Homo sapiens: one gene and its partners. The protein of the gene in region 3 purifies or fractionates together with the protein of the main gene of each other region. This does not show direct contact. Each region holds a gene or a part of one and is shown on either strand. Other genes may lie near its edges.

Region 1 (8,810 bases), on a different chromosome or scaffold from region 3:
TCATCCACTCATTCACCCATCACACATCCATCACCCATATTTGCTAAGCACTGACTCTGTGTCAGGCACTGTGCTTAGTCCACGGAGGTGAGAACACAGATATGGTTCCAGCTCTCATGGAACTTCAGTCTGGTGGGGGAAAACAAACATAATAAACACATAAGTACAAGCTTAGAGAGTGCCGTTGAAGAGATGACGTGGTGCTCTCCTTAACAAACGACTTGGGGTGTGAGGGTATATACTTAAATGTGGTTATCAAAGAAGAACTATCTGAGGATGTAGCATTGAAGCTGAGACAAGCCAAGAGACCAAGCATTCCAGGCAAGGAAAAAAAGAGACTTGAAATACATTTGAGAATTATTTCATTCAGTAACAATTTTTGAAAGTTTTTTGTTTGTTTTACCAGGCACTGGGCTTGTAGGAATGGCATTTCAAATGAGTGGAAGACACTGAAAAATTCAATTGCCTATATTTGTCTAGCTGCCTAGCTGGAGGAGGAGGGATGCACACGGGGAGGTGGCCTAGGCCCGTACTTTGATGGAACGAAGAACTTAAAAAAAAAAACCTACTTATATCTTTATTTGATGAAAATTTAAAAACGAAGTCATGAACAAGTTAAAAGTAAACTTTGACGAATTTGGTTTTTAGTAACATTGGAACAGAGGGGGAAAAAAAACCCACAGGGACCATAAAAGAAAAAAAAGGTCATTTTGACTCTATCAACATTTTTTAAATCACATAAATTACGTAAATAAATGCATATAATTAGGAGAAAAATATATGCATTATATGACCCAAAATGCTAGTTTTCTTAAGATATTTAGCTCTTACAAATAAACAAGAAAATGGACCACAGAGTAGAAAAATAAACCAGAGTATGAGCAGTTCACAGAAAAAGAAAAATCAATGGTTTGTAAACAAAGGTGTTCTAGATAATTTATAAATAAATAAAAATTAAAATGAGATATGTTTCATTTATGTGGCAAAGATGAAAAAGTCTAACATATATAGTATTGTTGAAGATAAAGGAAAACAAACACCACCATACACTACTGGGGGATCCAGGGATTGAAGCAAGTTTTTTGGAGGGATGTTTCCAAAAGCTATCAAATTATAAATGAGCAGACCTTTTGCTGCTGTGGAAAGCTAGCCAAAATAAGTTAGTAATTTGTAACTATCTATAAATTATAGATACTTTAAACTAGCAGTGTCTAAACTTTTTACAAATGCAAAAGTTTTTAGCATGCACCTCAAAATGTTATTTATAAATGATATACATATGCTACTAAACTGAAATTTATATTACAACACATCCCCACTAAAAGAAGTTGAAAAAAAAATCTAACCTGAATTTATTGGCAGCAAATTTAGCCTGAACTGACATGAGGTTAGTTATAGTGTTTATTTGTTCAGTGTGAAATTTGAGTATTTCTATGTTTCATTGTGTTTGATTTTCGATGCTGCCCCAGACACTGAGGAAGGTATTAGGTAATGTGTGGAATGTGCACACATAAACGTGAACAGAAGCACTTCTGAATTCTGAAACCCATCAAGTCTCAAGAGTTTTGGATAAAAGGCTGGGCACGGTGGCTCACACCTGTAATCCCAGGACTTTGGGAGGCGAGGCGGGAGGACTTGAGGTCAGGAATTCGAGACCAGCCTGGCCAACATAATGAAACTCCATCTCTACTAAAAATACAAAAATTAGCCAGGTGTGGAGGCGGGTACCTGTAATCCCAGCTGCTCAGGAGGCTGAGGCACAAGAATCGCTTGAACCTGGGAGGTGGAGGTTGCAGTGAGCCGAGATTGCTCCACCGCACTCCAGCCCGGGCGACAGAGAGAAACTCCCTCTCAATAAAGAGTTTTGGATAAAGGATTTTGGACCTGCATCACTTTTCCCTGGCAAATAGCAGGTGATAATAAGTGCTTGTTGAATGACTAAACTCTGATTCATCCTTGAGACCATCAATTATTTGCCTGCCAGTCCTATGAATGTGTTGAGGCCATTTGCCCGGTGTACAATAGGCCACAGACAGCTATTTAAATTCTTCTGCCTGCCTTCTATAGTTTTTGCTTTGGTTTGTCTAGTATTCCATCTTGTTATGAAAGCCACCAGCTATAAATTCTTGAGGTTATCAATATCCCTACCTAAAAGAAGTTGCTTTTTCTCTTCCATTTTTCTGCAGCCCTAGGAGCAGACAACTAAGCTTGTATAAAGTAAACAAACTAGTTCAGAATGAAGCCTTAGGAGCTTTGTGTTGAGTCCCATGTACACTTTGAGACACCTATTTTGGCTGCTTCTTGGGCCTACTTCCTGATTCTCAAGGTTTGGGAAGATAGAAGTTCCCCAGTCACCAACTTCTCTGTCATGTTAAGGGGAATAATTTATATTTTTACCATTTCAGGTTAAAAATAACTTCATATTATTAAGCATTAGAAAAGTAAGCTCCCTGAGGGCAAGGATTTTTGTCTGTTTTGCCCACAGCTGTATTCCTAATGCCTAAAACAAATATTTAATGAAGGAAGAAGCACCCTGAGTTTGAGAGAGAATATTTTGTCCTGATAGCTCCAGAAGATGGTATTTCTTGAGGAAATCCTGGATGTGTAGATAGAGCAGATGTTGTGAAATGCCAAAGTTAAAAGCAGATGAAGAGGCCAGGCGCGGTGGCCCACACCTGTAATCCCAGCACTTTCAGAGGCCAAGGTGAGAGGATTGCATGAGCTCAGGAACTTGATACCAGCCCGGGCAACAGAGCAAGACTCTGTCTCTACAAAAAATTAAAAAAATTAACCAGGTGTAGTGGCATGTGCCTGTAGTCCCAGGTACTTGACAGGCTGAGGCAGAAGGATTGCTTGAGAATAAGCTGCAGTGAGCCGTGGTCATGCCTCTGCACTCCAGCTTGGGAGACAGAGCAAGACCCTGTCTCAAAAAGAAAAAAAAAAAAAGCAGATGAAGTTAGAACTATGTTTTAAATGATAATATGATAATATTCAGAAATAGTTTGGTAGATCAACTCTTCAAGGATGGGGAAAAAACTGTCAGTATAAATACTTTATAACGTGCCTTAATTTCCAGACAAAAAGGCAAAATATTATTTTAAACAAAATGCCATTTTAAAAGGTCTAGAGCTAGAGCAAGCTGGTCTAACCCGAGGCCCATGGGCCGCTTTGAATGTGGCCCAACACGCATTCGTAAACTTTCTTAAAACATTGAGGTTTTTTTGCGAATTTTTTTTTTCTTTTAGGTCATCAGCTATCCTTAGTGTTAGTGTATTTTGTGTGTGGCCCAGGGAAGCCAAAAGATTGGACACTCCTTCTCTAGACTCAGTCTAGAACCCTCTCTCTACTACAGCTAAGATGAATGTGTGCTTTATTCTGAGCTAAATGTCTTAGAGGAAGGTGCAGAGGTATGGAAAGTTCCTCCATACCGGAAAACACAGTGAGGATGCCTGGGGAGTACAGAGGGAATTATGTGGCGTGCAGATTTGAATGCATGGATGAGACTTGAGAATTCTGATTGAGGACGTAAGGCCTGTGCGAGAGCCCAAAAAGCGTTCTCAGAACAAAGTAGCAAGGGGCGCGTATGAATTGCTGTGGTATCATCCGCAAGGGCTTTCAGAGGGGAAAAAGGACAAGGTTGGAAGGAGGCAGTTATGTTATGGGATGTAGGCAGGAATAAGAAGCAGTGCCAGGTAAGAGGGAGGAATCCAGGGGGATTCCTCTGGGGAAATCATGGGGAAAGGACTGTAGAAGAATTCGGCCTAGGTGGGATTCTGCAGACCAGCTGCAGGTGCAAGGACTAAAGTGAGCATGGGTGGAACCTAAGGGATGAAAAGACTGCAGGATCCTAAAGCGGCGGCCCAATCTGGAAGTGTCCGGGCTTTGGCCCAGGGCCCGGGGAGGCCAGGGCACGCCAGCCCGGGCCTGACAAGCCACGTTCCTACCGGTCCGCAAGCGTCCGGCCGCAGGTCTTGGAAGTCCGCGCCGTAAATGGCCTCCAGGGCCTGTAGCTCGTGGTCCTGTCGTTGCGGGTAGCTCTCCGGAGGCTCGTCCCGGCCGCGCCCGGGGGCCCCACGGCCCCCAGCCATGGCAGCGCTGCGCCCAAGGCAGGGCGGCCTTGCCTGGGCGGCGGTGGGCCCCCGGCAGCCTGCGGGGCGGGGCTCCGCGCTGGGGACGGGCTATGGGCGGTGTTCCACGCTGGAAACGGGCTCGTGGGCGGGGTTCCGCGCCGGGGACGGGCCGTAGGCGGAGCTCCGCGCCGGGAGCTAGCTCCGGAGGCTCCAGAAGCCCAGGCGAAGGAAGAAGGCAGGGGGACAGCTTTGCCCACATCCTGCTGGGGGAAGGGGAGCAAAGGAACTCCACGAACTTAAGAAATGAATCACAGATAGGAATGAAAACGCCACATTGTATAGTTTTCACGAAACAAGTATCTTTAACAGAAGTGCTTGCTGGAACTTCTCCACCCTGGCATGGCTAGTGCGGGAAACTCTTTTTTCTTTTTTTTGGCAGAGTTTCGGCTCTTGTTCCCCAGGCTGGAGTGCAGTGGCGCGATCTCGGCTCACTGCAACTTCCGCCTGCCGGGTTCACGCGATTCTCCTGCGTCAGCCTCCAGAGTAGCTGGGACTACAGGCGCGCACCACCACGCCCGGCTAATTTTTCTATTTTTAGTAGAGATGGTGTTTCACCATGTTGGCCAAGATGTTCTCGATCTCCTGACCTTGTGATCCGCCCGCCTCGGCCTTCCAAAGTGCTGGGATTACAGGCATGAGCCACCGCGCCCGGCCGGGAAACTCTTAAAGGGCAGACGTCGATGGGTTCTGAGGTCACTTCTAATTTCACCTTGTACCTTCCCAGAACAAGACTACCGGGAGTAAAAATTGTGACCCCCCCCACCCTCCTTCCTCCCACTTTAGTACCCCCAAACTTATTCTCTGAGCCACAGATTCAACACCCTCATTATGTTCTCTGTCTCTACATTCCCCAGCTTTGGGGATCTCCACTACCACCTTGCAAATTCAATTGAAAACTGTCTTTCCACTCAGGCATCTTTATGAGCTACCTTCCCATGAAGAGAATCATGTTCCCTTCCCAGTTCACTCAGTGTGAATTTAGGGAGTCTTTGTGTTATATCCTGCCTCAAGTCGTCGTTTTTCAAGTTTATAAAATAATAACCTGTCTACCCAGACATTGTTATTGCACTTCATCTTCAGTAACTTACTAATGCTGCATGTCCATTTCGAATAATCCTATTGTACTAACCCAAGTTAGGTTTAAGTGACGTTTCTTCTGTCTACCTTGCTTACTCCTCCACTGTTCACTAAATAATGATTGTGTAAATTCCTTGCTGCCATCTATCCACTCATTTCTGGCCAGATAACACAAATGCACTAGCTTGACCCAAGGCCAATTTAAATCATCATCTTCCCTCTGCTGGAGACCCGTTCCTTCTCCAGTGATCTCTGACTAGGTAAATGGCACCATTCAACTGAGTGTGATTCTGAATTCCCTTTCTCTCAACTCACATCCAAATAGTCACCACTTCTGTCCATCCACTACACTCTAACCCATTGCCACTAACTTAGTTCAGGCTACTGTCACCAATTCCCTGGGTTACTTCAATAACTCTCTTAATTAGTCACTGTCTTCATTCTTGCCCCACATTAAGCCATTCTTCCTATTGCAGCCAGAGTAATGTTTCTAAATTGCAAATATGGCCATTGCACTCTAATCCTTAAAATTACTCCATTTCTCTATTGGTCTTTAAAAAAATTCTTTTAAACCTATATTTATGAAAATGTCAAACATACTTAGAAGTAAACTCCTCTGTACTCATCATCCAGCTTCAACAACCATAGATATTTTGTCAATTTTATTTCATCTCTTCTCTCCATCCCTCAGGAGTGTTTTTTTTAAGTCTCAATCATATCATTTTAAAAAATAAATACCTAAGGATATATCTCTAACTAGAAAAGGAACCAACATAACATATTACTAATCTTATACCCTAAAAATGTAACCCTTTGGCCAGGGACAGTGGCTCACACCTGTAATCCCAGCACAAGGTGGAGGATCACTTGAGGCCAGGAGTTTGAGACCAGCCTGGGCAACATAGCGAGGCCCCATCTCTACAAAAAATAAAATAAAAAATTAGCTGGACGAGGTGACATGTAGTCCCACCCTCAGGAGGCTGAGTGGGAGGATTGCTTGAGCCCAGGAGTCCAAGGCTGCAGTGAGCTGTGATTGCACCACTGCACTCCAATCTGGGCAACAGAGTAAGACCTTGTCTCTTAAAAAAAAATTAACAATTTCTTAGCATCGTTTAATACCTAATCTATGTTCAAATATTTCCATTGTGTAAAATTAGAATCTATACTGGACGCTGGACCTATAAAAGATATAATTAAAACAAACAGCAAAATTTGAAAGGAATCTGTGGATTACATGGCAGTATTATACCAAATGCAGCATTAAGGGGGCAGTGACGTATTAAATATGCAGTTAGCTCCCAAATGATTCAGGAAAAAGAAGAGAGATGATGCTAAATCAAATGTAGAATGTTGAACATTGGAGAATTTAGGTGAAGGATATATGAGAGCTCTTTGAGTGACTTGAAAATTTTATGTAAGTTGGAAATTATTTTAAAGTCAAAGTTCAAAGCAAAAAAAATAAGAAACTGTCAAAGTGTTTTCCAAAGTGGTTGTACCACTTTATATTCCCATCAGTTTATGGGAGTTCCAGTTGTTCTACCTCTTTGCCAGTAATTGGTATTGTAATGTTTTTAATCTTAAACATAGTAATTGGTGCTTAGCAGTATCTCAGTGTGTCTTAACTTGCATTATCCTAATGATTAATGATGTTGGGCATCTTTTCATGTGATTATTTTCCATTCATATATCGTCTGTCTTCTGTTTTTATTCACATCTTTGGTGCATTTTAAAAATTTTGTTTTTGTTTTCTTATTAACTTTTGAGAAATATTTATATATTCTGGACATGTATTTTTTTTTTTTTTTTTGAGATGGAATCTCACTCTGTCACCGAGGCTGGAGTGCAGTGGTGCGATCGCAGCTCACTGCAACCTCTGCCTCCCGGGTTCAAGCAGTTCTCCTGCCTCAGCCTCCCGAGTAGCTGGGATTACAGGCATATGCCACCACGCCCAGCTAATTTTTGTAGTTTTAGTAGTGACGGGGTTTCACCATGTTGGCCAGGCTGGTCTTGAACTCCTGACCTCGTGATCTGCTCGCCTCAGCCTCCCAAAGTGCTGGAATTACAGGTGTAGGCCACTGCACCAGGCCGGACATGTCTTTTATCAGATATGTGACAGGCAAAAATATTCACCCAGTCTGTGGCTTGCTTTTTCATTCTCTTAACTGTATTTCAAAGAGCATGTTTCTTACTTTAGAGGACATTTAATTTGTCATTTTTTTCTTACATGAATTATGTTTTGCAGTCATATCTAAGAAATATTTGCCTATCCCAAGGCCAAAAAGGTTTTCTTCTATGTCTTCATCTAGATAGTGTTAGATTTTACCTTTTGGCCTATCATCCATTTTAGTTAAAAACTTAAGCATATACCTACTATATGAAACAGCAATTCCATCCCAGGCATTTACCCAAGAGAAACAAAAGCGTATGTCCATACAATGACTTGTATGTAAATATTTGTAGCACCTTAATTTGTAATATCCCCAAACTGGAAACAAACCAAATGCCCACCAACACAAGATGGACATATTGAAGTATAAACAAATTGAGGTATATCAATACAATGAAATACTATTCAGCAATAAAAAGAAATACATTATAGATACAGCAACAACATAGACAAACTCAAAATAATTATGCCGAATGAAAGAAGGCCGACATAGAGTACACACTACATAATTCCATTTACATAAAATTCTGAAAAATACAAATTTGGTAACAGAAAGAAGATAAGTGGTTGCTTGGGGATAGGGAGGACATAGAAGAGCCAGGTGGAGGGATTAAAGTGGAACAAGAAGAAACTCTTGGGAGTGATGTCTGTATACATTCATTATTTTGATTGTGGTGATCATGTCACAAGTATATGCATATATCAAAACTTATCAAACTGTACAATTTAAATATATGCAATGTGTTATATGTTTACTATACCTTAATAAACTGTTAAATGAAAAAAGGAAAAGGTCATTTTTTTGTTTTGTTTTGTTTACAGTGGTTTGTTTGAATCAAAATTCAAACAAGGTCCACACATTGCATTTGGTTGCTGTATGTGCAATACGGGGTTAACTAAGCAGGCTTGCGATGTATAAACTCCGTATATTTCAAAGAAAAGATTTGCCCATGACTGGCTCCTGGGAGATAACCTCTAAGTCCTTGAGACATTCTGCCTCATAAGGATGTCTTTGTATACTTGGGGTTCACAAACCAACTCATCAGGACACCCCAACATTTCCTTCTTCTCCAAGTACTTCCTAAACCTTTAGATCAGTCTTCCAAAGAAGAGTCTCTAATCCTATATGTCCTTCTTGCTCCCCCAAACTACATCTCCTGGTCTTGCTGCTTGCCCTTGATGTTCCAAAGAGAAGCTCTCAGATTTTGGTCACTGTTTCCCAAATTTTAAAACTGCAATCCCTTTCCCCTTCATTCTTGAAGGATATTTTCATTGAATATAGAATTCTGGGCCAACTGTTATTTTCTTTCAGTACTTGAAAAGTGTGCCATTTCTCTCTGACCTACATGGTTTCAGTGAGAAATCTGTTATCATTCACATTGTTTTCCCACTAAAGGTAATGTGGCACTCCTCTTTGGCTACTTTCAAGATAGTTT
Region 2 (6,225 bases), on a different chromosome or scaffold from region 3:
GATGAAGGGCCAGATGACTAAAAAGCATACTCTGGCTGAGCCAGGTGAATTTTGCCTGATATCCTGGTAACTTTTGTAGACATTTCTTCTTAAATAAGCACTTGATTTTGATTATAAAATTCTGTACCTAGATTATGTCTATAAGACAATATGGAAGGTTGTACTGTGCATATATGAACTTAGGTGATAAATGCTGATAAAGTGTAGCATTTTTTTCCCTGACTAGTCCATGTTCTGTAAGTGAATAACAATATACATTGTTCTAGGTACATCTTTCCTGGAACTTTTTCATGCCAACATCCATACTTTTTTTCATATTGCTTTGGCTATTGGGAAAATAAACTCTTGCTCTCTTTTGAAAAATATTTTTCCTAAGGATTCTTCTAGAACAGGGAGGAATTCTTCCACAGAATATTCAGGACCAGAACCAAGATCTCAACCTCTGTACATCTTGCCATCCTGACAAGTTTTTCTCCCATGTCCGAGATGGCCTTAATTTTGGTACACAGATTGGCTTCATATCAATTAAAGAATGAGGTACAGTAGGTTTTCTCTCCTCTCTCCGTTTTTCCTCTCTTTCATCCCTCTCTCCACTTCTCCCTCCCTTTCTCTTTCTTCCTCTTTTAGCCTATTCCTCCCCTTATTTAAAAAAAAAAAGTTAATTATGTTAAACTTTACTCCTTTATTCCTACAGGGAGAATGATGTTTCTACTTTTTTAGTGATGTAATAGTGGTAGCAACGTTCATTTCCAATAACACTCTATTATGAAGAGCAGCCACTCCTTTTCCTAGTTAATGAAGAATAATTAGGCAGGCTTATGTTAAAAGTATAAAAATAAAACAATTTAATCTTTAAAAAGGTATGTAAGTATTTCCTTTCTCTCTACTATGTACTTGATATCTGTACATTCCCTATCCTCACATCCTTATAACTTTCATGTTATTTTTGAAAACAAATCTTTGCATAAACATTCTGAATTCTAGAATCATAAGAAATTCTCACAAAGAAACTAGCTTGATTTTCAACTAGATTTCCAAATGATTATCTGCAGTTGGAGTTGCCCAAATTTTTATTTTAAAATGACAGTAAGTAGTTTAGACTTTGTGGGACATACAGTATATCTCAGCTACTCAGCTTCGCCATTGTAGAGGTAGAGCAACAAGAGATACTGACAACATAGAGATGAATGAATATGTCCGTGTTCCAATAAAACTTTGTTTACAAAAATCAGGCGAGGGAGCCAGGCACAGTGGCCCTGCTCCTGTAGTCCCAGCTCCTCGGGAGGCTGAGGTGGGAGGACTGCTTTAGGCCAGGAGTTTGAGTACAGCATGGATAACATAAACCCTGTCTGTAAACAGTAAAATAAACAGGTAAGGGGCCAGATTTGGCCTATAGGCTATAGTACACTGACACATGATCTAAAGTCATACAGCAAGACTGAGTGTAATTTTCTTAAAATAGTATTTATTAGAGATGGTTTTGTTGGAATTATACAAAAATATTTCATGGCACTGATTTAGCACTGCCCCTATAAGATATGTGTAATTTTCCCTAAGGTTACTTCTAGCTGAATTAATATTATTTTTTACTCTTTACAATGTTTTTAGCTCTTTAACTTACAGAAAAACTTTAATAGACTTCATGACTCTTACCTTGATATTCTAATAACACCAGTAAGCGTCTCATATTTGATTTCTATGTATTTTACAGATACTTGACTGGATTTTTGTATAACTGCTTCCTGCCTCCTTCCAAACTGACTGCAAGAGAGAAATTTAGCTGTTTGATTTACTTAAAACCAAATGGATTACAATGGATAATTCATCTTTTGGGTATATTTTTACTATTATTCAAAGCCAAATGATTTTCATTTAATTGTAATAATAACTGACAAAAATCAGTATGTTGTAGCTAATATGTTTTATGCATGAGAATTATTCTTAAAGTTTGTTCTCCCTGTTTATTACACAGATCAGGAATAGATTTGTTCAGTTCAGTATTTATTGGATACCCTCTATTGGTCAGGCATTGTGTTAAGCATATGTGAATCAAAATGAACACAACTTTTTCCTTTGAGTCTGATACAGTGAAGGAGATAAACACTTCTACAACTTAAATTTAATTTTAATAGCAGTAGAAGAGAACATAAGGAATAGAGGTTAATTTTACCCAGAAGCAGGATAGAGAAAATATTACAGAGAAAATCACATATCACATGGGCTCGAAAGATGTAGAGGTTTTTGACAAATGAAGAACAACCATAACAGGTAGAGGGAACACCATGAACCAGGGCATGAAACTGAAAGTGCATAACATATTCTAGAGAGAGAAGGGTGTGGGCATGAGTTAGGGCTGGAAAAACAGGTTGGAAACAGATAAGTAAGGGTCTCAAATGCAATGTCAAAGAGCTTGCAGTTTATTTTCCAGGCAATGAGTAGGCAGCCAAAAAAAAAAAAGTAAGGATGTTTTTTTTTTTTTTCCCATGGCATCATATTTAAGAGGATGGATTTAAATTGTGTGAGACCAAAGCATAGAGACTAGATAAGAGGCGATCAAAATATTTCAAAAAGAAATAATGAAGATCCAATGAAGGAAGTGGAAATTAAAATAGGGAAGAGAGTAGATGGATTAGAGAGACATTTAAGAGATGGAATCAATAGATCCTGTTACTAGATAATGGAAGTAAGAGGTGAGGAAGAGTGGAAAAGTCATTAATGACTCTAAGATTTCTGCTTGGCTGCTTACCAAGATTGGCAACAAAGGGAGGGAGAAGGTTTGGAAAAAGAGAGAAGGATAATGAGTTTGACTTTACATAGAATGAAGGGCATCCAGATAGAAATCTTTGGTTAATAATTAGAAATATAGACCTAGAAATTAGGAGGAAACCTGAGACAGAGACAAATATTTCAAAGCTTACAATACAGAGATGATACCTGATTCTATTGGAGCAGGTTTGATCATCTAGGCAGAAATTAGGATGAGAAAAAAGGAGATCCAATAATACAACCTTATAGTCACAGAAGTAAGAAAAAAAGGGTAGTTGTTTTGAAGAAGCCAGGATAGGTGTGGAAAGTACTCAAAAAGAAATCTTCAGGGATAAAATAAAGTGATAATTTAAAAGAAATCAATGGATTAAACATATTGAAACTGTTCTATAGGCAGTGGTCATTGAGTCAGCTTTCAGTGCATTAGGAAGAAGATGCATAGGTGTCAACTCTTTTCTGACAGCATTTACTAGAGAAGAGAAAAAGCTGGGGACTACATCTTCAAGGAAGGGACTTTTTTTGGATGAGCAGTTTTGAGTGTGTTTGTCAGTTAAAGAGAGGAATTAGGTTAGTTTTCATTTGGGAAAAATTGTATATATATTTAATGTAAGTTATCACATTGCATCTTAAAAATATTCTTATTTAATACATATATTTCCTACATGTATATGTGGTAGCATGATAGCAAATAACATTTGTTTGGTATTTCCAAAGGACTTTCATGTACATTGCCTCATTTTACCTTTACAGCTACTCTGAAATACACAGGCATTATCCCTTTTATTCAGCTGAGAAAACTGAGCTTCATTGAGGTGGAGGTCAAAAATCACAAAATTTGTGATGAATTAAGATTTGAACATATGTTTTGTGACTCCAGTTTTCCTTTCAGATTTTAAAATTAATTAAAGGGATCTTCATTATACTTTTATTGTTAACTTTTTGTTAACATAATTTATTCATACATTCAGTGAAAATTTTGTTGAGGTACTGGGACAGGTTAAAAAATACAGTTGTAGCCCTCAGGATATTTAATATCCAGTGAAAAGTGACAGTCAGTAAACCAACAATCTCAATACTTTGATATATGTTGTGAGGTTGTGATAACCGATTCTTGTTTAGTTTAATTCTATATCTCCCTTAGACCAGTGTTAAATTTAAATAAAACACCTCATTTTTTCCAATTCAGGGAAGGCACTAAACATAAAGCATAGGATAGAAATGTTGAACTCATCCAAAATATTATTTTGTTTAATGAAAATGATGAAGATTAAGGAATACTTCCATGTATTGAGTAAGGTTGATAATTTTCTAATTCTTCACTGTGCATTATTTTGTTTGAAGTTGGTAAATTTGGAGTATCCTGCAGACACATTTTGCTTTATGTACTACAACATTCTACAACCAAATAAAAATTATTTTGATTATCTGATTTTGGATTATCTCTGCCAAAGTATATAATGAAAGGTTGTCTCCTTGCTGCTTTACTGAATGAAAAGTGTTGATTTAGTAACTCCAAACTATCAGGTTATTAAATAATCATCTTATTGTGTCTACAAGATAGCTGTCACTCTCACATATTTGTATGTAGGTTTCTAGGACTTTTGGGGTACAACAACAAAGATTTCTAGTAAGTTTTGTTTTTGTTTTTAATTTTATTTTAAATTTATAAATAACAATGGTACCTATTCATGAGATACATAATAATGTTTCCATTCATATAATGTACAGTGATCTGACCAAGGTAATTAGCATATCTATCATTTCGAACATTTTTCTTTGTGTTACGAACATTTAATATGTTCCTTCCAGCTATTTCAAACTATATAATATACTATTGTTAACTATAGTTATCCTACAGTGGTATAGAACACTAGAACTTATTCCTCTTAAAGTTTTGTTTTTAATCTAAGCACTGCTACTAACTGCACATAGGAAATATTGATTGCTATTTTATTAATAAGGGGAATTAAGTTTGTAAGTCAAATAAACATTAATGAAATACCTTTTTGAAAATACTATCAAACTAAAACTTACTGGGCCATTTATCCAACTGTAATTTTAAATTGTGAAAAATAGCACAGTGGCCAAATATGCTATACCCCAGTGCTTTATAAAACAAATAAGATGACCTTACCACTAGGAGGTGGTATTTCAACAAGTAGCTCTACTATTATTTCTTGGTATAAAGTTGAACTAATCTTTTTTTTTTTTGAAAAAAATCAACTTTATTTTTTCTAGGTTTAAAAAAATAGAACCAGCTATTAATTTTTGTTGAGAAAATGCATCTTTTGGTGTTCACATCTAAATTTCTGAAAAGGTGATCTGGTTACTAAAATCATCCCAAATACATTCATAAACCAGATCCACGTGTGACCAGCCCTTTACAAAAATTAATTACAGTTGCCACAGCCTTTACATTCATTCTTATCACACGTTACAACATGCAGATAACACAAAGAAAGGTCAACAAGCTGAAGTAAACATTACAGCATCAGGAAAATGAAAACCCATCTGTATAAAATAAATACAATTTTGTAATAACTGTAAAGAAAATGAAAGCACTTAATAAAAATAATGGCAGTTGAATGTATAACTGTCTCATCTCCCAATCATAAAATAAGTTACTGTAAAATGCATAGACTCCTTACACTTAAAGAATTTGTGCATCACAGTCATGTGAAGTTGAACTAATCTTAAACTCTGTATTTTCTTGTGGAATAAAAAGGGAGGGGAGGACGCATTTAAAGTTAGTGAATGTATTGCTCTTACTTTAGGTATAACGTGGTAGTTCAAGTAGATAAAAGCATTTAGGAACCCTCACCCACTTCTATCTCACTCCTACAGAATCTCTAGTAATTGCTTTTCTGTAAGTAGATTTTTGGGAGAAACTCAGAGAAGCTTATTCTATGTAACATGACAAAACAGAAATAATATCTATATATTCAGCAGCTGGAAGGAAAGATAACAGTGACATACGAGTTATATGCTTTTATATCTCAAAGTGGGATTTGATATTTATTTTTACTTGATTGTCCTAGAGTTATACTTCCAATGTATCCATCTTACTTTTTGTGTGAACTCTTAGAGAATGCTACCAATCTATGAAAGTTCAGCACTTTAAAGAAAGCATTACTCAGTTATTGTGTGTTATCGTGTTTGTATGCATGAGTCTTTGTGTATGTGCTAAATGGCAAATAAGAAATATGTGTGTTAAATATGACACATAGCCTTTTTGCCCTAGCTAATATAAATTAACACACACATAACACATTGGATGCAGTAGAATAATAGATTTCTCTCTATAGATTTTTTAATAAATTATGCAGTAAAGAATGGAAAGCATGGTCCATATGCTTACTGGATGTGTTTGTGTGAACCCTGATCTAGGGCACGTGCATTTCCATTGTAGGCAGTGTTTTTAAAGTTTACTTGTGATTTCAAAGATTGCCATAAGCAATG
Region 3 (8,696 bases):
ACAACAGCATGCACCTGGATCATGCATTCAGTAAGACCAAGACAAACAAATTGAAAAGTACCTCGGAAGTCACCTTGCAAGACAGTAACTTAGAAGTGTACTGGCAGAGAGGGAAAAGACCAGGGTTAGTACATGGCAGTGACACACTTACAGAACACCCCCTAGCCGGGAACAGGCACCACACCAGAAGAGGATGGGAGGGGAAGTAATACCAGGAGGCCATTCTACACCCATGCCAAAACTTTCTCCATCTGATATTAGTTTATTTATAAGTCTATTCTTTGCAGCAACTAGATACCCTATTGTTCACTAATAAAAATATCAGATAAGCCGTACTTTGTTAATTCAAAACGTTGCTTTCAGTTTCTGTACTTTGAATTAACAAGATTCCTTCCCCTCTGTACACAATCAGCTGCCCACCAGCAAGGTCGTTGGGGGCCATTTTGGATTTGCTAGAGTCTGTAGCCAAATAGCCTTTTCTCTTCCCGTAGGCTTCTCTGAACCCCAAAGCCGTCTTGTAACCTGTTGTTCCATTAAAAGAAGATCCTAATCACAGCAGTTGGTTTGTGGAGGCAGATTCTCTGAAACCGGCCTAAGGGTAGTCTTGCCTAGGGAGACCACACAGCCTCCCTCGTCAGAACCCTGGGGGCCTGGGTAAGTTCCTGAGAGTGGGATCATCCTTTGATAGCAATTTCTGGTGATTATATAGGATTATTAGTATGAGCACTTAGGAACTGAAATGATCCTTTAGTTCCTATAGGGGACTAAAAGTCTTACTCAAAGTACAGAAAAAAATGGCCTGACTATGGAAAATGAGATGGCAGGACCAATTTGGGACATCCCTCTCCAGAATTATGGTAATGAGCGTACATTTACACTGCTTGGGGCATTTAAAGCATTTATTGGTTTGGGGCATTGATAGCCATAGACTAGTTAGGTGGGATCACACATCTGTGATTGCTGACTGCTTCTTATATGTAGCACTTAGGAATTATAGTTCTGTCATGATTGGGCTAATGGCTGGGAGCTGACAAGTCAGGAGCTCTTCTCTCTCCTTTGCATCTTCACTAGGGTACGAGTGAGAACGTAAGAGAGAGTTAGGGAAGCACAAGGCATCACTGAGCTTCCTGTAGCGTCTGGGGAAACAGGAGGCAGATAGGCTTCCTTCACACACTGAGCGAGAGTATGGCCACAACTCTCAATGCATGTCCTGGTCTGGAAGGGTAATGTGTGCCAGGAACTCTCAGCTTTGACGTAGCCCAGGAAAACCGACGAGGTCTTCTCTTGTTCTAAGATGAGACAGAGTGGTTGGATGACCTCTCAGTAATGAAGTCATGGGATGAGAAAGAGAGAGAGAGCACACTGGAAAACCCCACTGAGGGCAGATCCTGCGCTAAAAGTAAAGATGGGGCTGAACATCCAGGAGGCTGTGATTTGGACTCTGGTCAGCATCCCTTCAACTGAGAAAGGCAAAGCAAACCCTCGAGATGTTCATGAGCATCATTGACTCAATGACCCATCATCTTCACTTTCTGAGGCTCAGGTCAGGTTAGGGAAACAATTGGCTGGAAAAATACTGTTTGCCTAAATACAGTCATGTCACTCAGGATGGACTAATGAATCAGAGTTTCCTAGAGGGGTTCTTCATGCCTGAAGGAAAAACATCCAAATAGCCCATCATTTGTGCCCACTGATCCAAATGTCTTCCAGGTCCATGAGTGGGCAACCCCACCTTGGAGGCAGTCGCTTTGCAAGGCATCAAGAAGCCCTTTAGGAAACTAGGATTCACTAGTCCATTATGAATTGCATGACTGAGCAGAAATGGTATGAGACCCAGATAAGTGGACATTTCCACATAAGAGAACATTTCCAGATAAGAGAAACCCACAATATGAATAGGATTGCTGCATCTGGGTGTGTGTTGTGTGCACTGCACAAAAGCATCAGACTAAAGGGATGAATGGTACTAAAGCCCAGTCCCCTACTCTACCCCCCAAATGTGTGGCTGGTGCAGGGCTGCATCTTCATATCTTCATAGAGGAACAAGGGTGGTTTTTTTTCCTAATTCACACAAAGGCCTTGCATAGGTTGGTAAACAGCCTTGGGTAAGTGGGTAGGGGTGGGGATGGTAATCCTCCTGCCCTCAGAATTAGCCAAGAGGTCCATTAATAAGTGAGGCTGGAGATACTCATTGGTGACTCCAATATACAGGACAAAGAAATCAGCCCAGGTGGGTGAAGACTGTGGCAACTAAAGGGAGTACTTTGCTCAAGTTCTGAGCTAGTAACAAATATGGCTGGTTGGGGACAACCTTTGGATAACACCACTCCCTGACTCCCATAAGCCAGGGGCCTCTCTGCATATGACTTTTTATAAAGTGGAAAACTGGAGAGAGCAGGGCCCTGAGCTGAGTCCCTGTGGACAGGACCCCAGAGGCCACCACACCCCTGATGGGGGCTCGGGGGACACTGAACTTGTTTTGATGGCAAAGATCAGTTTTTCTCACTCAGCAAAACTTCAGCCGTAGCTACATTCTATCTTTCTCCTTCTGTCTTTCACTCTCCTCGATACCATTGTGTCTAACATATCACACTTTATACACATTCCAATGATCAGCGCCTGTCTTGTTTTTAACTCTGCCTTCTCCTTAAAAAGAATAAAAAATAAGAATTATTTTTGCTCAATTCACAAATAACTGTTACTTTCGATGGGCAAACACATGGTTGTGTTCTAATCACGCGACAGGCATTGATTCTCAGGTGTGGTTTATCATCTCCAAAACGGCATGCCAAAATGCTGCCAAGTGGCTTACTGGAAAAAATATTGGCAAATGGAGGTGCCAGGGGTGATGCTGCATAACATGGGGAGATGCTGGGTGTGTAGGTGTGAGCCACTGAGGTGCTTAGAGGGTGGAGAGTCTAAGAAGCCATGTTTCTCTGTGAGAATAGTGTATGTAAATGGAGGCTAGAGACCAGAATTACTTTACCTTTAAGAGAATTAACTTTATGCTTCTACGGATAGGTAAGCCAGTTACACAACTCATCCCCCCAGCAATCCATCTGCTCTCTATTACTATCCTTCTGGTATTAAAGAAAAAGAAAAAATGGAAAAGGGGCCACAGATTGGTTAGGAAAAAAATGAATGTTTGTTCATCCCTACAGGTAAACTTCAACACATTCACCAGTGATTGACACAGATACAGGAGAAAAGGTCCCCTAAATTGGAAGGGCTAGGAGAAGGCTCTCATTTGAAGCCTGACTGATGATCATATCTTTGCTTTAGAAGCAATCTGAATTTGTTGTTTTAGATTTGGGTCTCTTAAATGAGCATATAGTGGATTGGTAGATTTTGTCCTGATCCTAAGAATTTTCAACAACAGCAAACTTGGTTCTGTTGTAATAGCAATAACAGTGCAAAACATTTGGCTTTGAATCCAAGATCCAGGGATATTAACAGCTTAATTAGTTAGGTCTCTTTCTTTTTCAAAATGTTTATTTACTGGAAAATATAGAGACAGGAGGCTGCCTCTTTGATTTGTAAGTGAAGGGCAATCAGCATATTAAAACGCTGATTCCAAGCAGCTTCATTCATGCAGAGGAAAAACTCAACCTGGTTGGCATTTGTTAGGTGGCTGCCAGAGTGTCAGCGTGTGCACAAAAGAGCTTCCAGCCCTCTGCCTTTACGAAATGAGTGAGAACTGCCTCTACCCTTCTGTATGGAGTATTTTTCCCTATCATCTGCACTCCAACACAAAAGACATACACAAGTGACAAGTAGAGTGTGTTCAGCAAACACTCGCGTGGGTCACATGCTAAGTGGTTCTACTTGTTCTTCCCCATCCACATCAGAGTGTGGGGCACCCACTTGGCTAAATTCTACCAAAACTGCTGATGTATAGAGCAGAGTCACTGGGAGAAAAGAAACCAGACACCTAGAGCACCAAGTTTCAAAATGATTTAACTTTCAGAAAATTCTTAAGGCAAACTTTATCCTTTGAAGTGGGGCTTCAAAGAAGGGCTGGTGAAAGTGACTGAGTAGCCAGGGAAAAATCCTGCAGGCTCACGAAAGGAGCTGCTGGCTCCCCTACAGTGAGGTTCAGCAGTGGAAATGTCTGCAGCAGCTACCCAGGGCCGGGCATCATCCCACTGTCTAATACAGTGAAGAGCCCAGTAGAATAGCTGCAGCCTAATACAGCAGCTGAGCCAGTGCTCCACGCAGTTCAGGTGTAAACAAAAGGGAAAGCCTGGGAGATGCCAAGTGAGAAGCCAGGCTGCCAGATATCCATTTGCTTTCTTCCTTTCTTTACCGCCATATATTTTGAAAGCAACTTTCAGCATCTGGGCTTCAACTCCAGAAATCCTTTAACTTAGCCAGCTAGGATATAAAAGGCAATAAAACAGCAGGGAATTCTTACTGTGAACTTCATAGCATTCAAGTTTAAGGTGACCAGATGGTTTATCACCCAAACTGGGACACTTTCAAGAGTGAAAGGCAGGCTGGGTGCAGTGGCTCATGTCTGTAATCCCAGCACTTTAGGAGGCTGGGGTGGGAGTATCCCTTGAGCTCAGGAGTTGAAGAACAGTCTGAGCAACATAATGAGACCTCCTTTCTACAAAAAAGTTAAAAAATAAGCCAGGTATGGTGGCATACGCGTGTGGTCCCAGCTATTCAGGAGGCTGAGGCGGGAGGATTGCCTGAACCCAGGAGGTCGAGGCTGCAATGAGCCATGATTACATCAATGCATTCCAGCCTGGGTGACAGAGACAGACCCTGTCTCAACAACAACAACAACAACAACAACAAAAGAGTTGAAGGGGATATTAATAACCACAACACCACAACAGGCATAAGCCAGGACTGTCTCAGGTAAACTCAGTAGGATCCTCAACCAACCCAAGCTATCTGTGACTTAAGTGCAGTCAGGGGAGGAGGTGATGACTTCAATATGTGCTAAGAGACTGGTGCCAGAAGACCCACAGGAGGTTGGCATGAACCCTGAGGCTGATCTCCAGGCTCCTGGGACTGTGTAGAGCAACAGTTCCTATGTCTCTAACCGGAGAAAGAAACCACAGAGCATGTGACTTCCTTCACAGTTAATTTGAACGTTATGTGCAAAGTTCCGAGGGCTTGGGTGTAGCAGAGTAGCCATGTGGTTTTCAACTGTCATTTTCACTGGCTCTTTGCTTTCAAGCTATGCACATGGGCTTGTTAACAGCCCCAAACACACTCAGTCTTTTAAGCACTGTAACATTGTTAGGGATTGCCTAGAGTGTCGGCTTTGAAGGAACAGCATCTTCATCCTTTTCTAGAGAAATAAAATCTCTACTGGGCAATGGTAGAAATCAGCTCCCAGGTGCATAGGGATGATTTCAGGGCACTTGCAACCTTCTCCCTGCGTGGCCCTTGCATGCTGTCTTTCTATGCACCAAACATCTTACACACTAGCCTTGCTGGTCGACTCCAGCTATACTTGGCAGCAAAGGACCAGCTCCCTGCAAGATCAACAATTTTTTTTTGAAACAGGCAAAAACCCAAACCCAGTTCCAGGCATGTGAAACCACATATATGAAAACTGATACTGGAACCCTAATGCTGACCAGACAACGACATACACATTTGTGCCTGAACTGGAATGCCACACGCCACACCGATGGCCGCGCTCAGAGAAGTGAAAGAGGAAAGGAGGAAAAACTTACACTACTATCATCCATTCTCTCGCGCCTTTTAGATTTGTGTGTCTCATAGTCTTCCATGAGGGTCTGCATCAGATTCTTGGGCCGCTGGGTTCCGGCAGCCTCTTCAGGGGCTAAGTCAGGCTGCAAGCTGGGGCCTTCAGTGGTGGGGGATGGAGGAGGTTTGACTTTCTCTATTTTCCCTGAAACAACACGAAGAAAATACCCTTTCTAAGCTTGTCTGCTCATGACTGCTTTTAGAAAGAAAACTGGCAAATAAAAGAGCAACAACCTCTGACACAGAGAGTGGTACCAGAATGATGGTTAAGTGTAGGCCATTTTATTATATTACAGGGATCAAAGCACTTAAGGTTAATGCACAAACCCATCCAAAGATCTCAAGGACACCAAGTTCCAAAAAGTCAGTTAGATCAAACAGGCACAGCACGCATTTTGCAAATATATGTTGGACAGACCGACAGTGGCTCCAGTTGTTTTGAGATATGTATTCTATCACAGATCACAGAATTAGACTGTCAGAGGTGGTGGCACCTTGGAGACTCACAGACCCACTTCTTAACAGATGAAAGCGCTTGAGGCTCTGCCAAGGGAAGGCTGTACTCAAGTCATAGGGAGCCAGTGATGGTACCCAGGCCTCCTGCTTTCCTCACCAGGGTCTATCCTCTATAGCAGAGGAAGTCAATTGTCTGCTGACCTGCCCAGGCTTTTTGTGCAGACAGCCCAGTGTTATAAAACCTTTGAATAAGGATGAAGTTTGTTCTTCTCAGTTTGCCCCGGTCTTACACTGGCCAGCTTTATTCATTTACCTCACCTGCTGGGGTCCTGAAACATTGGGGTTTGAGGCCTCCCAGACCTTAAGAAGTGTACACCAACAAAGGCAATGGAAAAGGTGCACACCAGCCTTGGGAATGAGGAGATTTTAGCTCTCGCAATGTCCTCCAAGAATCCTCAGGATGGAGAGATGAGGTCAGTGATTAATTCAACAGTGGTGTGGTGACTCTACGCACCCTCACCAAGACCATTTCCATCCCTCCCTCCCAAGAAATGCCTGGCCCTGGCTTCTGGCCCTTCATGGGGTGGGTTTATTGACACAGAGCCCCAAATGCACTTCTGAGAAGTATCTTCAAGTATAACAATTATGATTTTTCCAATTATGCCCTTTGTGGTTGATGCGGCTAAAACCTGTGAACAAGGAATGTGGATAAAACACACAAGATAAATGGGGCTTGCATGGCTCCGTTTGGGAGGGGAAAGGGCCATTTGACCTCTTCCAGTTCCAAGCCGAAGGGGACTCACCTTTCTTCATCTTACATCCCAGGCTTCTAACTTGGCAACTGCCTGATGTAGCAGGAATCACAAGTGAAGCCTGGTGTCCACATTTCCATATGGGCTGCTTAGCCCTTTACTGGCACAACCTCCTTCTGATGAGAGATACAAAGGCCTGGAGTCCAGGAAACCCAGGTTTTTAACTCCTGCTCTTCCAGTACTTGGCTACGTGACTGACTATAGATCATCGTTTCATATTCCCATTTCAATCGTGGGCTGATCACTTAAATTCTCCTAGCTTTAACTGCCATAGCGGTTAAATGGGAATTTTGGAAGAAGTTATCTTTGTGGTCTCTTCTAACTCAAACGTTTTGCTATTCTATCAAATATGTTTGGCAGGATACACCCTTCTTGATTTTTTTTAAGGTATTTAGCTGTTACACTTGGGGATTAGGTGGAAAATAGGTTTTAATATACAGAAAAGGGCACTGCATTTCATGGCCACATTACATTAATAACAGTGAAATTTGTTGCTTTGATCTAAATTACCCAGATAACTGAAAAGTCTTTTGATATTAACAGTACAATAATAAGTATTTCAAAATCTCCAAGTTCACTAGAAACAGTTCCTATTTTTTATTACGGAAATTAGGGAATGCTATAATGACCCCTATAAACATTATAAACATCACCCAGAGTAAACATTTATCAAGATTTTAGCATAATTGGCTCTTCCTTCCTTCCTTAGACTTGCTGAATTATTTTAAACCAATCCCAGACCTCAGGTCACCTCACTCCTGCACACTTAGTATGTATCTCTGAAAATTCCGATTGACTTTTTAATTGAAGGCTTAAGAAACAATATAGCACAGTGGTGAGCGTGTAAGCTCTGGAGCCAGCCGGTTTGGGCTTGAATCCATGACTTGGCAGCCAAATCACTTTGGGCAAGTTACTTACTCTTTTGATATCTTAGTTTCCTCATCAGTAAAATGGGTATGATGATAAGGGTACCTACCCTCAGATAGTTATTATGAGGACAAAGTTAATATTTATAAGGTTAATATTCAGAACAGAAAGCATCTAATGATTCTAGCTACCACTTAATTGGAATCTCAAAGAATAATGTGACTATAGGGTGAGATGAACAATTTCATGCATATTCTGCATAAAATTTTTGCATCTCTTCTGGGACCAGAAATAGACACCAATTACCAGGTTAATTTTCATCATTTTCCAGTTGACCTCTCAAGTGTCCAGATCACTTCCCACCAGCCACTCTTCCAGAGTTAAACACCTAGAAAGCACAGCCTATATTCATTGCTTCTAGCTTCTCCCTTTCACACACAGCACAGTGGAACTCCTGTTTATATTTCTGTGAAGGCCATTTTCACATACTGACTTAAATCTTATCTGGCTATTGAAGCTTTTGTCTTCTCAATTAAGCTATAATGTCATCCTGAGGACAGGGGGGTATGTTTCACCTGTCTATGAATCCCCTTAATTCATTTGAATGCAAACTCCATTAGGGTAGAGCCTTGCCTGTCTGATCATTGCCAGATCCCAGCAGTAGCTGTGGTACATGGCACGAGGTAGGCAATTCATGTTTGTTGAGTAATCAGTAAGTCCATTATGAAATATATATAACAACCACAAGTAAATGCTTATGGATTGGGACAGAATCTCCCATAGAGAATCAGAGGAAAGGGCTTAAATGCCTTCACCAAAATATATGAATTA

Evidence for each region.
Region 1: the proteins of PALM2AKAP2 (region 3) and EIF2AK4 purify together in Homo sapiens (affinity purification with mass spectrometry; 2 studies listed by BioGRID and IntAct, with this or other methods). This does not show direct contact.
Region 2: the proteins of PALM2AKAP2 (region 3) and LACC1 purify together in Homo sapiens (affinity purification with mass spectrometry; 3 studies listed by BioGRID and IntAct, with this or other methods). This does not show direct contact.

What each region holds. Positions count from the first base shown.
Region 1 is NC_000015.10:39,929,474-39,938,283, reverse strand, and holds the start of EIF2AK4 (eIF-2-alpha kinase GCN2), read right to left. Parts: upstream 4,170-8,810; 5' UTR 4,089-4,169; coding exon 3,945-4,088; intron 1-3,944. UniProt on the Homo sapiens protein: Metabolic-stress sensing protein kinase that phosphorylates the alpha subunit of eukaryotic translation initiation factor 2 (EIF2S1/eIF-2-alpha) in response to low amino acid availability.
Region 2 is NC_000013.11:43,889,738-43,895,962, forward strand, and holds the end of LACC1 (purine nucleoside phosphorylase LACC1), read left to right. Parts: intron 1-376; coding exon 377-536; 3' UTR 537-537; exon of another isoform or gene 538-542; intron 543-1,711; coding exon of another isoform or gene 1,712-1,865; 3' UTR 1,866-4,195; downstream 4,196-6,225. UniProt on the Homo sapiens protein: Purine nucleoside enzyme that catalyzes the phosphorolysis of adenosine, guanosine and inosine nucleosides, yielding D-ribose 1-phosphate and the respective free bases, adenine, guanine and hypoxanthine.
Region 3 is NC_000009.12:110,153,498-110,162,193, reverse strand, and holds part of PALM2AKAP2 (PALM2-AKAP2 protein isoform 3 (PALM2-AKAP2)), read right to left. Parts: exon of another isoform or gene 8,441-8,696; intron 7,115-8,440; exon of another isoform or gene 5,991-7,114; intron 5,876-5,990; coding exon 5,697-5,875; intron 101-5,696; coding exon 62-100; intron 1-61. UniProt on the Homo sapiens protein: Binds to regulatory subunit (RII) of protein kinase A. May be involved in establishing polarity in signaling systems or in integrating PKA-RII isoforms with downstream effectors to capture, amplify and focus diffuse, trans-cellular signals carried by cAMP.